Linked DNA regions of Homo sapiens: regions 1 and 3 are each reported to be linked to region 2. Evidence: microRNA targets listed by miRTarBase, many of them from high-throughput screens and not tested one by one. Region 2 holds a microRNA gene; each other region holds the end of a gene's coding sequence.
Evidence for each region. Region 2 holds the annotated microRNA hsa-miR-6750-3p (GAACUCACCCUCUGCUCCCAG, at 1,292-1,312, shown strand). A microRNA usually pairs through its seed, bases 2 to 8, with sites in the 3' UTR of a target mRNA and lowers its output. Matches are read on the target gene's strand: a 7mer-m8 pairs with bases 2 to 8, a 7mer-A1 pairs with bases 2 to 7 and ends in A, and an 8mer does both.

Region 1: miRTarBase lists PHAF1 as a target of hsa-miR-6750-3p. Seed matches in the 3' UTR shown: 7mer-m8 at 1,746-1,752.
Region 3: miRTarBase lists WARS1 as a target of hsa-miR-6750-3p. Seed matches in the 3' UTR shown: 7mer-m8 at 3,574-3,580.

What each region holds. Positions count from the first base shown.
Region 1 is chr16:67,146,420-67,150,556 of GRCh38, forward strand. PHAF1 (phagophore assembly factor 1) reads left to right here. Exons shown (of 16, transcript NM_025187.5): 16 at 626-2,125. The coding sequence ends at 712. B3GNT9 (UDP-GlcNAc:betaGal beta-1,3-N-acetylglucosaminyltransferase 9) reads right to left here. Exons shown (of 2, transcript NM_033309.3): 2 at 1,685-4,137. The coding sequence starts at 4,066. The coding sequence ends at 2,858. Among named protein-coding and RNA genes, the nearest start is that of B3GNT9, 2.5 kb to the right of the region's middle. RefSeq lists a silencer at 3,935-4,137.
Region 2 is chr11:64,895,394-64,899,674 of GRCh38, reverse strand. It overlaps MIR6750 (microRNA 6750), which reads left to right and starts at 1,238; the gene lies at 1,238-1,312. It overlaps ATG2A (autophagy related 2A), which reads left to right. Exons shown (of 41, transcript NM_015104.3): 32 at 833-1,039; 33 at 1,313-1,414; 34 at 1,505-1,589; 35 at 1,701-1,836; 36 at 1,932-2,004; 37 at 2,181-2,263; 38 at 2,806-2,927; 39 at 3,059-3,213; 40 at 4,233-4,281.
Region 3 is chr14:100,331,136-100,335,272 of GRCh38, forward strand. It overlaps WARS1 (tryptophanyl-tRNA synthetase 1), which reads right to left. Exons shown (of 11, transcript NM_004184.4): 11 at 2,655-3,901. The coding sequence ends at 3,740. Among named protein-coding and RNA genes, the nearest start is that of SLC25A47, 9.9 kb to the left of the region's middle. RefSeq lists an enhancer at 1,812-1,861.

The DNA.
Region 1 (4,137 bases), not on the chromosome of region 2:
TGGAGGGAAATTGGGGAGGGCATCACTGCCATAGTGGGCAGATTCATCCTTCTTCAGCAACCGTGTCTGCTGCATACCTGGCCTCCCCACACTTAACAATGAAGGTTCAGAAATGATGTTGAGAAATCTGGGGTCACAGAGGCCGAAGCAGTGGTCTGTGTCCAACAAGATGGGAGGTAACGGATCCCAAGTTTCTATCTGACAACATGATTATAGCAGGGAAGGGAACCACAGGGCAAGTGGGGCCCAGCAGAGGGTGTTGGGGGCCCTCCAGTGGCATGTGAACAAATGCATTGTAGGGGAGTGAGTGGCTCTGGAGGCCCTGCTGACTTGGGAGAACAGCAAGCTGCCCTTGTTTTCCCTGTGGATGCAGTATCTCCAGCAGACACTTAACAGTTCCAGAAGGACTGGACACGTGGCCATGGTAAAGGCTGTGTGTAACCATTGAGAAACAGGCAGATCTCAGGCAGAGGGGGGCCTTTAGCATGAACCAGGGGAGGTTGAGGAGTCGGGAAACCCAGCCATTAGGTGCAGGTATGTCACACAACCTCCAGCCCTCATGCACAGGATCTGCCTACATCCCTTTACCTCTCCCCCTTGACCCACTGTCCTCTTCTCACACCAGGTCATGCAGAACAACCACATTGCCTCGGTGACCCTGTATGGCCCCCCCAGGCCTGGTAGCCACCTGAGAACAGCGGAACTCCCCTAGGGACACCACCACCCATGCCCCTCTGTCCCGTGGAACTGTGCATCACATCCTGCTCAGTGGGCCTCTGTACCACCCTGTGGGTTTTCTTGGACACCTGGCCAGTGCTGAAGGGCTGTTGTGATGTTCTGAGGTTGGGCTCAGGCTGGGTGCTCTGCCATGGGCTGAGTGGCCCAGATATTCTTCTGTCCATCTTTGGCCTGCTGGTGCCAGCAGGGGACACAGACTGCAAAGAGAAGCACAAAGTTTGAGCCTTGATTCCTGGACCCAGGAGCTCTCAACTAACAAGGAGGCAGGAGAGGTCAACCCTTGTCCCATGCACATTGGGAAGACTTGGGGCTCTTTCTGTGACTGAGGACACAGGCACCCAGGATAAGGACAAGGTCCTGCCTTTGGCTCCACATTGCCACATGACCCTTAAGGCAAGCAGGTAGCGTGTCCATAGTACTTGGTTGCGACATTTGCACTACATCCACTTTAGTTACTTGATGAGCTGGCTGTGGCCAGGGTGGCCCACCTGCCCTTCCCTGTTCCTTTCTTGCACGCGCTCCCTGCCTGGGCACACCAAACTGGTTGAAACACAGCTTTCTACCATCCAGGTACATGCCCAGGCCTGGTTCTCACCCCTGTTGGAGTCAGCTTTCAAGATTGCCTGTGCCCCTGCTCTGCCCCATCCTGGCTGGCAGGGCTGCATGTTTCCATCCTGTTTGCCTCTTTTATTTAATGCCAAAGTTTTAGCCAAAGACATCTTCCTACTTTTGTTGTGTTTCAGCATTCTGTTCTGCACTGTGGGCTGGCTCTCTGCCCCAACCCTGGGCACTGGCCCCTGGCTGGGCCATTTCATGGCTCAAAGCCTCTGGGGGCTCAAGGAAGGCTGGGCTGCTCAGTCCCTTCATGGGTCTTGCTAATGGAAAGTAGCATATATGTGCTTTAAAAATATTAATCCTTTTGAAAAGAACTGAGAAGAAAAATGTATAATTTTATCCCATTTTTAATATTTTGGTCTAGCAACTTGTGATACATAGATGACAATTTTGTGAGTTTTTCAAATGTGTGTACAGATTTTTGTAAATATGACTCTTTTGTAATTAACTCATGTACAGCCTCATCCTGTATAGTTTAATGATGAATGTGCAGGGGACCTGTCTCAGGCTCCTATATGGTTCCTGGGCCTTATAGCCAGGTTTGTGTGGCGCTCCCGACTTTTGTGACTGACTGGTGTCTTCCCATTTGGACTGTGGCCTGGCCAGAGCCCCTTGCATATCCCCACTGTCAGGGGCAGCCAGGACTGTTCCCATCCTCCTGGAATGGGGGAACCTTCCTTATCCCCTGCCCACATCCCCTCTCCAATAAAGCACCTGTGCCCTCAGCAATGGCCTGCCATGTGCTGTTGCTGGGATGTTTGTATTAAGGTAAGTGTGGGTATTGGTTTTTTGAGCAAGGGGGTGGTTGAAGCATATGGGGAAATTAATAGTGGTGGCATCTCAGGGGAAGACATTCCTTGGCTCCTCTGAGGGGATACAGCCTCCAGTGGGAGACTGGCATTGTTGTGTGAGTTCAGGAGGTGAGGAAAGACTAGGTAGGACCGTGCACTCATTTGTCCCTTATGTGTGGCTCCATCCCTGGTGCTCAGCCACACCTGGGCCCAGGAGAGGTTGTGGGAAGCATAATATCTGTTTTCAGATGAGCTATGGCAAAGTGCCTGCCAGGTTCATGAATTCAGGCTGTGGCGGCCGGAGCCCCTCCACCTCCCTGTGGGGCCTGGCCTTGAGAGCCTCTGCATACGTCCGCGTCAGCCTAGGGGGTTCCAAATCCAGCAGAGTGGTAGGATTCCCTAAGTCCCTGCCACCACACCAGAACACACCTCTGTGCTACTAGGAGGACCAGACATATCCACTGCTCTGGGACCTGTTGGACAAGAGATGGTCATCTACCACCCAGCCTTGGCTCGCTCAAAGGGTCACCATTACACGGGTTTCAACTGGTTCCAGCAGGGTGGACCGCCAGGAGCCAAGCTTAACCCCCATCCCCTGGGATCCTGTGGAGACAGGCACCTGGTGATCAGGGAAGAACCACATACACGGCAATAATCTGGGAAACCGGCTCCATTCTGGGTCTGAGTTAGGAGCTTGGGGCTGTAGTGGGGAGCTAGGAGTCCCATTGGAAGGGGCCTGCAGCGACAGGCTGTGGATGCGCACAGGCTGGCCCATGCGGCCCGTGCAGCAGGCGCCACATAAGCCAGATGTCAGCGGCCGAGAGCCCGTGCACTACAACCAGCTCACGGTAAAAGCAGGGGTCGAAGGTGCTCAAATGCGGCGCGGCTGAAGGCTGGGGGATGCCAAAGGTGCGGAAGGCAGGGTGAGGCTCGGGCGTGAGCCGCAGGCGCTGCAGACACATGCCCAGAAAGACGTCGTCGATGGGGAAGAGCTCGACCTGCGCACAGGCGCCAGCCAGGCGGTGCAGCGTGGCCCCGGAAAGCACAAAGCCACCGCCGCCCGCGTAGGCCGGATAGGCGGGCAGGCCGTACACGGCCTCGGGGATGTAGTACTTGCTAGCCCGCGTGCGGATGGGCCGCGCATGCACAATTACGTCACCAGCAAGCAGGTCTTGCGCCGGGTCCCGCGGCGCCAGGAACTCCAGGAGATTTCCCACGTTCACGAACACATCTGCGTCGCCCTTAAAAACGAAGCGCACGTCGGGGCAGAAAGCTGAGGCCCAGGCTAGAAAGTGGATCTCCTTGAGCGTTAGGTTAAAAAAGGTGTCGTCGAAGGCCCAGAGCAGGATGTCCGCATACGCAAGGCTCTCGGCCCGCAGCAGGGCGCGCCAGTGGGTTCGCGCGCCCTCCCCAACTTCGTCGGCCCCGCCCGAGCCTGCGCCCCTGGGCACGCCCAGCAAGAACACGCGGCGCACCAGCGCCCCCTGCACGCGACCCTCCGCGCCCCACGTCTGGCGCACGGCTTGGCGCCGCTCGAAGTCCTCTGCCACCGACTTGACAGCAATAAGCAGGTCCGGGCGGCCACCGGGTGCGCCGTCGCCGCGGCACTTGTGCGGCTGGTTAATGAGCAGTGGAAACCGCCGCTGGTCCTTGGCGCGCAAATAGCGGGCGAAGTCAAAGGGTCCCGTAGGCGTGGGCGGCGCCGGTGTGTCCCCTTCGTAGGCCGGCGGGGCTGCACCCGCGTCGGGTAACTGGAACGCGCGGGGTCCGGGGGTGGGCCTCGGTGCCGCCCTCCCTCGCCCTCGCGGCGCGCTCGCCGTCGGGGCCGCGCCGTCGCGCTGCGCATAGAGTAAGAGGCCCAGGGAGGCGCCAAGGAGCAGCGTGAGCAATGCGTCCCTGCGTAGGCGCAGCCTCCTCCTCATCTCCGCGCGGCCTGCGCCCTCCCTCCCCTGTAAGGGTCGCAGTCGGCAGCAGGGGGCAGCGAGCCCCGCCC
Region 2 (4,281 bases):
TGGGGGCTGGCCACAGGTTCAGCTGCGGATGGGGTGTGTGAGATACAGAGAGTGGTACAGAGGGTTCAAGGTTTGGGCCTGGGAAATTGCCTGGGGCAGGGGGGTCCCACTTGCTCAGAGTGAGCCAGGCCAGTGCTGGGCTTCCCAAGGAGCCGCTAGAGGCAAAGGGCAGAGGGGCCTCAGGCTGCTCGGGTTGGTGGGCTGTGCTGCAAGAACCTGCGGGAGATGAGTGTCAGAGCAGGGGGCCAGGGGCCTCTCTGAGACCTGATGGCCAGCCAGCGGGTGTGCAGGAAGAGGGGGAAGGAAGGCTCTCCACGGAGAGGGGCTACGAGAGCAAAGTCCTGAAGGCAAAACAGGCCTGGACTCCTTGAGGGGCAGAGACCAGTGCAGCTGGCATGGGAAGCAAGAGCAGGGTCAGGTCTGGAGGGAGAGGCAGGTCCCTGCTGGGCATAGAATAGAGAAGGGGTAGGGGCCGGGCATGGTGGCTCATGCCTGTAGTCCCAGCACTTTGGGAGGACGAGGCAGGCAGATCACTTGAGGCCAGGAGTTCGAGACCAGCCTGGCCAACGTTGTGAAACCCTGTCTCTACTAAAATTAGCTGGGTGTGGTGGCACATGCCTGCAATCCCAGCTACTGGGGAAGCTGAGGCAGGAGAATCGCTTGAACCCGAGAGGCAGAGGTTGCAGTGAGCCGAGATCACGCCACTGCACTCCAACCTGGGCGACAGAGTGAGACTCTGTCTCAAAAAAAGAATAGAGAAGGGGTCTGGGGCCAGCCCTTCCCTCCCTCTTGGGGCCCTGCTTACCTGGCCAGGCCTCTGTCCACCCCACAGGTAAGCTTCCAGCACGAGGTGTACCCAGCGGAGCCAGCCACAGGCCCTGCGGCCCCCAGCCAGGAGCTGGAGGAGCGACCGCTGTCCCGTCAGGTGTTCATCGTGCAGGAGCTGGAGGTCCGAGACCGGCTCGCCTCCTCCCAGATCAACAAGTTCCTGTACCTACACACGAGTGAGCGGATGCCGCGACGTGCCCACTCTAACATGGTATGAGCGACCTGCACCATCCACCCTGGGGCAGGGCACCAGACCGTTGGGGATACATCTTCACGCATGCATGGATTCACACACATACACGCATTCCCACACAAACACCCAGGTTGTTTGTGAGCCTGGGAGAAGGGCAGAGCTAGGGGCTGTGTTAGCGAAGGGAACAGCGTGTTCAGAGGCAGGGTGGCTGGGTGAGCTGTCAGGGAACAGCTGGGTGAGCTGCTGCCCCAGAGGCCCAGCAGGTGTCCAGAACTCACCCTCTGCTCCCAGCTCACCATCAAAGCGCTGCATGTGGCCCCCACTACCAACCTGGGTGGGCCTGAGTGCTGTCTCCGCGTCTCGCTGATGCCCCTGCGGCTCAATGTGGACCAGGTGAGTGGTCTACGTGAGGGCAGAGCCTAGGGTGACCCCACTGTCTCCAGGCCTCTGAGTCTGATCCACATCTGGACCTCTCCCTTGCAGGATGCCCTCTTCTTCCTCAAGGACTTCTTCACTAGTCTGGTGGCCGGCATCAACCCCGTGGTCCCAGGGGAGACCTCCGCTGAGGGTGAGAGGCTGGGCCAGGGAGGGGAGCGTCTGGGCCTTCTGCCTCCCAGGACAGCACAGGTTCCCAGTCATTCCTGGCCCCATCCCCAGTCTGTGACCTCCCCTCCCCTAGCTCGCCCCGAGACTCGAGCCCAGCCCAGCAGCCCCCTGGAAGGGCAGGCCGAAGGCGTAGAGACCACTGGTTCGCAGGAGGCCCCAGGAGGTGGACACAGCCCCTCCCCTCCTGACCAGCAGCCCATCTACTTCAGGTAGGCTGCTGGACTGCGGGTGGGGGGCCCTGGGCCAGATTGCTGGGGGCCAGGCCAGTGAGCAAAGAACCCCCTCTTCCTGCTCCCCTACCCAGAGAGTTCCGCTTCACGTCTGAGGTCCCCATCTGGCTGGATTACCATGGCAAGCACGTCACGATGGACCAGGTGGTAAGTGGGGCGGTCGGATGGGGTGGCCATGTGGGGTCAGCTGTGGCTGAGTCCCTCTGGGGGCCAGGTCTTGCATCCAGGCACTGTTAGCAGCCAGGGCGCTCTCCAGTGGCTCCCATGGGCTAGCTAGCTCCCTGAGTCCCATTGGGTAAACCTGGACCCCCTCCCTCTCCCAGGGCACTTTTGCTGGCCTCCTCATCGGCCTGGCCCAACTCAACTGCTCCGAGCTGAAGCTAAAGCGGCTCTGTTGCAGGCACGGGTGAGTCCCCAGCACCCCAGCCTCTCTCCAGGGTCCCTGATCTTCCTTCTGTTCTGGTCCTGACTGGTTGTGTGGCCTTGGCCAAGTCATCACCCTTCTCAGGGCCTCAGTTTCTCCTCTGTAAAAAGGACGCAGTTGGCTGGGCATGATGGCTCACACATTCAGGCATTCGAGACCAGCCTGACCAACATGGTGAAACCCCCCCGTCTCTACTAAAAATACAAAAATTAGCCAGGCGTGGTGGCATACACATGTAATCCCAGCTACTCAGGAGGCTGAGGCAGGAGAACTGCTTGAACCTGGGAGGCGGTTGCAGTGAGCCAAGATCGCACCACTTCACTCCAGCCTGGGCAACGGAGCAAGACTCCATCTAAAAAAAAAAAAAAAGGACACAGTCCCTCTGCACATGACTGGGTGGGACCACAGGGAGGGTAGAGTGCCCACAGTACTTGCCACAGGGGTACTGAGTCCTCCTGACCCCACAATCCCTCCATGTGTGGCTCTGCCTCACCTTCTGCCTCCTCACCTCCCTGCCCTGCCAGGCTCCTGGGTGTGGACAAGGTGCTGGGCTATGCCCTCAACGAGTGGCTGCAGGACATCCGCAAGAACCAGCTGCCCGGCCTGCTGGGAGGCGTGGGCCCCATGCACTCGGTTGTCCAGCTCTGTGAGTGTCTAGGTTTGGAAGCCCTCGAAACTGCTTTTACCCTTGGGCAACCTAGAAGCTGCCATTGGGAATAAGAGGAGGAGGTGGGGGCAGGGCAGCCTCGGGTGTCTCTGAGCGCTCCTTCCCCCTAGTCCAAGGGTTCCGGGACCTGCTGTGGCTGCCCATTGAGCAGTACAGGAAGGATGGCCGCCTCATGCGGGGGCTGCAGCGAGGGGCTGCCTCCTTTGGCTCATCCACAGCCTCTGCCGCCCTGGAACTCAGCAACCGGTTGGTACAGGCTATCCAGGTGAGTGGGTGCCCTGTATCTGGGCTGTGCAGGACAGAGCAGCTGGAGCCCTCTGCACCACAGCTCCCTGGTTCTGTCCTCAAAGCTCCTCAGAGTGGGCAGTCTGGGTATGACAGCCCTACTTTATAGAGAAACAGCCACGGAGAGGCTAAGTGACTTGCCTGGGACCTCCAAGCCAGGTCTCCCGAGGCCCACAGGGGCTCCCATGCAGGAGCGGGAGTGCCCCCCAGGCCTTCAGAGCCCACTGTGTCTCCTGCTCATGGCATGTCTTGTAAAGGGGGGTGGAGGACGGCTGTGTTTGCAGACTAAGAATCTGAGGCGCAGAGGCTGCCCTGGTTCATTCAGGCCATACGCTTCGCTAGGCCAGAAGGACCCCAGGGAAGCTGGGGAGCCAGTCTCGTGGGCAGTTGTCAGATGAATTCTGTAGGGGATCGATGGTCCTAGGCGGCTAAGGGGTGAGTGCAGGTGCATGGTGCATTCTGGAACCTGCAAGCTCAGACCCCAACAGGACAGAGGGCAGGGCTCCAGGGGAGGTGGGAGGGATGCATGGGCACCAGGGAGCCCCCGGGAGTGTTCAGTCAGGTGGGAAAGAGTGATGCCAGGTGAGATGCTGGGCAGAGGATCTGGCAGACAGAAGGAAGGATGGGCCTCTGACCATCTGGCAGGGGCGTCTGGGGGGCCAGGCAAGGAGCGGTCAGTCTCAGGCGTGCAGCTGCGGCAGCCATGTGGAACCTGCTGAATGTGGTGGTCAGCAGGAAGAGAGGTTTGGGTTGAGAAGACTTTAGGAAAGTCCCCTGAGGAGTCCCACGTTCCTAGGTTCCCTCAGCAGAGTGGCAGGTGCCTAGGAAGGGGAGGAAGAGTGGGAGGAAGTGGGGAGTGAGGCTGAGCAGGACCCCCTAGGCCAGCACAGTGACAGGCAGGGAGGCTGAGGGCTGGTGGGGTCTCAGACTGTCCTGGGGGCCTGGGGCTGACGTGTGCCCCAGCCAGCTGTCCTCATCCAGTGCTCCCATGTCCCCCAGGCCACAGCTGAGACCGTGTATGACATCCTGTCCCCGGCAGCCCCCGTCT
Region 3 (4,137 bases), not on the chromosome of region 2:
AGGGGTGGAACCCCTCTTGTTACGCCAGTCCCCATATGTGTGGTGCTGTGGGCACCTGACCTTATGCCCTGTGCCCTCTGCCAGGAATACCCTCCTACTGCTCTGCCTGGCTGGCTCCACACCCCAGGCGCCACCTCCTCCAGGAAGCTCTCCTTGCCTGACCACTGGGCTGCTCCCAAGCATCTCTTGCTCTGCTCCCTTGGGGACCTGGTTGGGTGTGTGGTCACTCATCTGCCTCTCCCCGGCCACAAGAGCCTGCGGGCTGTGCAAGGACTCCATCTAGCTCCAGGGCTGCTGCATAGTAGGGGGTGTGGGATGAATGAGCGAGTGAATGAATGAATGAATGAATGAATAAGTCCTGCAGTAGATTCCAGGAAGTGTGTCCAGCTTAGGAGTTGCAGAGGCTGAGATGTTGTGGCCGAATGCCGGGAAAGGGCAGGCGCTGACAGGTTTCCATGGCTCATCAAACACTGACCCCGGGACCGTTTTTGTCGAGAAGACCCCACCTGTTCGGCCTTGGCAGGAGGGTTCCTGGCAGCACTCCTGGCCCGGCTCTGGCAGTGGCTGCACTCTGGGAGGTGGGGGCCTTTGGCTCTCCCTGAGCCCGTGTCACTGAGCAGCTGGCTCTGCGTGTCACTGGGGAGGGGGTTTGCAGGAAAGGCCTCTGTCCTCACTGTTTTTTTTTTTTTTTTGAGACGGAGTCTCGCTCTGTCGCCCAGGCTGGAGTGCAGTGGCGCGATCTCGGCTTGGCTCACTGCAAGCTCTGTCTCCTGTGTTCACGCCATTCTCCTGTCTCAGCCTCCCGAGTAGCTGGGACTACGGGTGCCCACCACCACGCCTGGCTAATTTCTTTTTGTATTTTTAGTAGAGATGGGGTTTTACCGTGTTAGCCAGGATGGTCTCGATCTCCTGACCTCGTGATCTGCCCGCCTCAGCCTGGGATTACAGGTGTAAGCCACCGCGTCTGGCTGTCCTCACTGTCTTTACAACCTCTATGGTAATGACCAGAGAGTCCTGGGCCTCAAGGCCCAGCCAGTGTGACCCTGGGGAGGGCACATCTGCTGGTGCTGCAGGCGGGCACTGGGGGCCAGAGGCAGGCCTGTTGCTTGCCAAGTGCCGTCCTGGAGCAACGAGCTGTTCCACAGCCACCCGTGTGCTCAGCCACCCTCCTTCCTGTCCCTGCTTCCCCACCCAGTGCTGTTTTGTGTGCTTCTCAGGCACCATCTCCTTTCAGGCAGGCTCAGCTGGTCTCTCCTCCAGGCTGGGGGCCACGGGACAGAGAGACTGAGCTGGGTTGGCCCCACATCTGTCTGACAAGTGGACATTACCAGCCAGAGCAGGAGTGCTCTTCCGGCAGAGCCTCTGGCACCACGGTGGTGCAGGCACCCGGCCTCATGCCTCATCCCCAAACACTCATGGGGCCACTGCAACCTGTCCATCCTAATCCAGACACGCCCATGTCTTTCAGGGAACATTTCTCTCAGAAACCACTGGTTTTTAGCAAAACTGGGGAGGCTTGGGAGACATGTGGCTCCCCTGTGTCCTGACCAGCAGTGGCCTTGGGCAAGTCACCTGAGTATTGGACCCAGGGCACCCCTCCTAAGACCCTAAACAGGAGGCATCACTGCTTTTTACAGGGGAGGAGATGGAGGTCCTGGGAGGTTAAGTGACCTGGCCAGAGTCACACAGCCGGTGAGGGGAGAAGCTGGTTGGTGTTGGCTCACTCCTCCCTGGGGCCAGGGTCTCACCAGGGCCCTGCCAATAGATGCTGTGGCTGGGTGGACAATGACAGCAGCAGCTGTCACTGACTCCATTTGTCACCCCTCATTGCACTTGCGTCACAGGTGCAGTAGAGCGACGAGGAGTCATATTAGTTGCCCAAGGCAACAGGCTAGTGAGCTATGTGGCCTCTGTGGGTGGCTCACCCCCACTGGCCATAGCCAGCCAGGTGAGCAGGGGAGGGCAGGGGTGGGGCCCAGGCCAGCAGGAGTCGAGACCGGGAGAGGAAGCCTACTTGAGGTCATGGTGCACCCGGGTACCTGAGTGGGACTCGAGCCCAGGCCTCCAGCCTCCAGGGTGGGAACCGTAGTTCCCTCATTTGTAAAATGGTCCCTCTGTATGTGTGTGGAAAGCACCAAGAGTCAGGACAGACTCGCTGTATCAGAGTCACCCTATGGCCTTGGACAAGTCATGTTCTCCTCTCCTAAGCCTCAGTTTCCCTACTTGCAAAATAAGGATGGGCCGGTAGAATGAGCCCAGGGCTCCCTTGCAGCTCGGCCTCTGCCCTGGGCCTCATGTGAATGGGGCCCGACCTGGCTCCCAGCCTGTGCTCCCCGTCACTACACAGCACCACTAAGCACCCCACGGCCAGCCCCTCCTCTGAAAAGCGAGGACAACCTCTGCTTGCATTCTCCATCAGCTGCTGGAAATGAGAAATGTGGTGTGAGAGGGAGCCCGCACCAGGATGCTGCTAAGGGCTCTCCCAGCACAAGCCCATTCCTGGGAGCTGTGGCACAACACCATGGGGTTCCTGGGACTGTGCGCTTTCATCCCCAAATTTTGACTCCAGCAGACTCAAGGTCATCCACAGAAGGGTGAGGGGAGGGGTCTCTGCTCCCTCCTCAGACCTCCCAGACAGAGCACAATGACAAGAGCAGGAGCCAAGGAAGTTTATTTACTCTACTGGGTGACAGGAGGGCAGAGTGCTCCAGAGGAGACCCAGATACATCAACCAAGGACTTCCCTGAGATTTGGCTTTGCTCTTCCAGGCCTGCACATGCTGCGTGATGAAATGAGGCCTGCCTAGACATCTGTGAGGGCCTCGAGGGCTGCTGCCTCGACTTTCTCCCTAGCTAAGTCCACCCGTCCAGGGACACAGCCAGGGCACTGCTCTGTGCTGACTTCCACTGCAGCCAAGGGTCAAAATGAAGCATCTGCGGAGGCCAGGACTCCTTGGCATCGGACACAGTCAGGGGAAAAGCCACCCTGACTCTGCAGGACAGAGGGTCTAGGGTCATTTGGCAGGAGAACACTGGTGTGCCAAGGGAAGCGAGCATGATTTCTGGAGTGGACTACATGCATGGTCTGGAGTTCAGTAAACTGGAAAGTTTCACCCCCAAGTCTTAATTTAATCAAAATTGCTGAACTCTGTTCAATCTTCATTGTTAAAAGCAGCTTTAAAGCTGGGTGATTTCTTAGTCAAATGTATAACGAAGCTTTTACTTATCAATTTCTTTTTGGGAGGGGGCATGGGCTGAAATACATCTTGTGCTCAATAAACCTCCCCACATCAATATTTCAAAGCACTTTCTAGGTTACAATAATGACATTTCAATTCCATATACGCATACATAGAATATATATTTTTAAACAGAGTGGGTCTTAAGAGTATACTTGGAACCCTCGGAGTCCTCCATGGACAAGAACAGGGTGGCCCATGGACTTCCAGCCAAAGGCTCCACTGTGGGGCTGCTTTGGGGAGAGACTCACAGCTGGACTTCTCTATCCGACCATGCAATGTTAGCCAGCACCAATTACCCACAATGCTTTGCCCATAAGAGATAGAAATAATGGAACTCACAGGAAGAAACAGTATTGATAACATACACAGGCTTACAGAGGCCAGGCCCAGTAATTACCATGAGACAGAAGCCTACAGGTGGCGGTGCTTTGACTGGGCTGGGATTATTGATACATTACTGATACATCACTTCTTTTATAAGCATATGTAAAACGAGTGCTACTGAAAGTCGAAGGACAGCTTCCGGGGAGTCATGAACTCTTTCACTATCTCATCCGTGACCTCCTTGCGCCGGGCCTGGTGCTCTGCGATCAAGGGCTGCAGAACCTCTATGAGTGCCTTCTTGAGCTCACCGGTGAGCATGGCTCCGCTGGTGTAATCCTGCCCGGAGGGAGACAGCCACGTGAGAGATGGCTCCACATGTCCTGAGTGGCTCCTTCCTGCCTCGGGCACCAGCTCAGCCCACACCACCCATGCAGAGCCTGGCACGTGGGTGGCACTCAGAAGTGAGATCTGTTGTTACCACAACAATAACCTATACCTTCAGCTACACTTTTCCTAAAACGGCTAGAAACCTGGCTCTGACGATAGCCATGACTTGGCCTCTCACAGTGAAA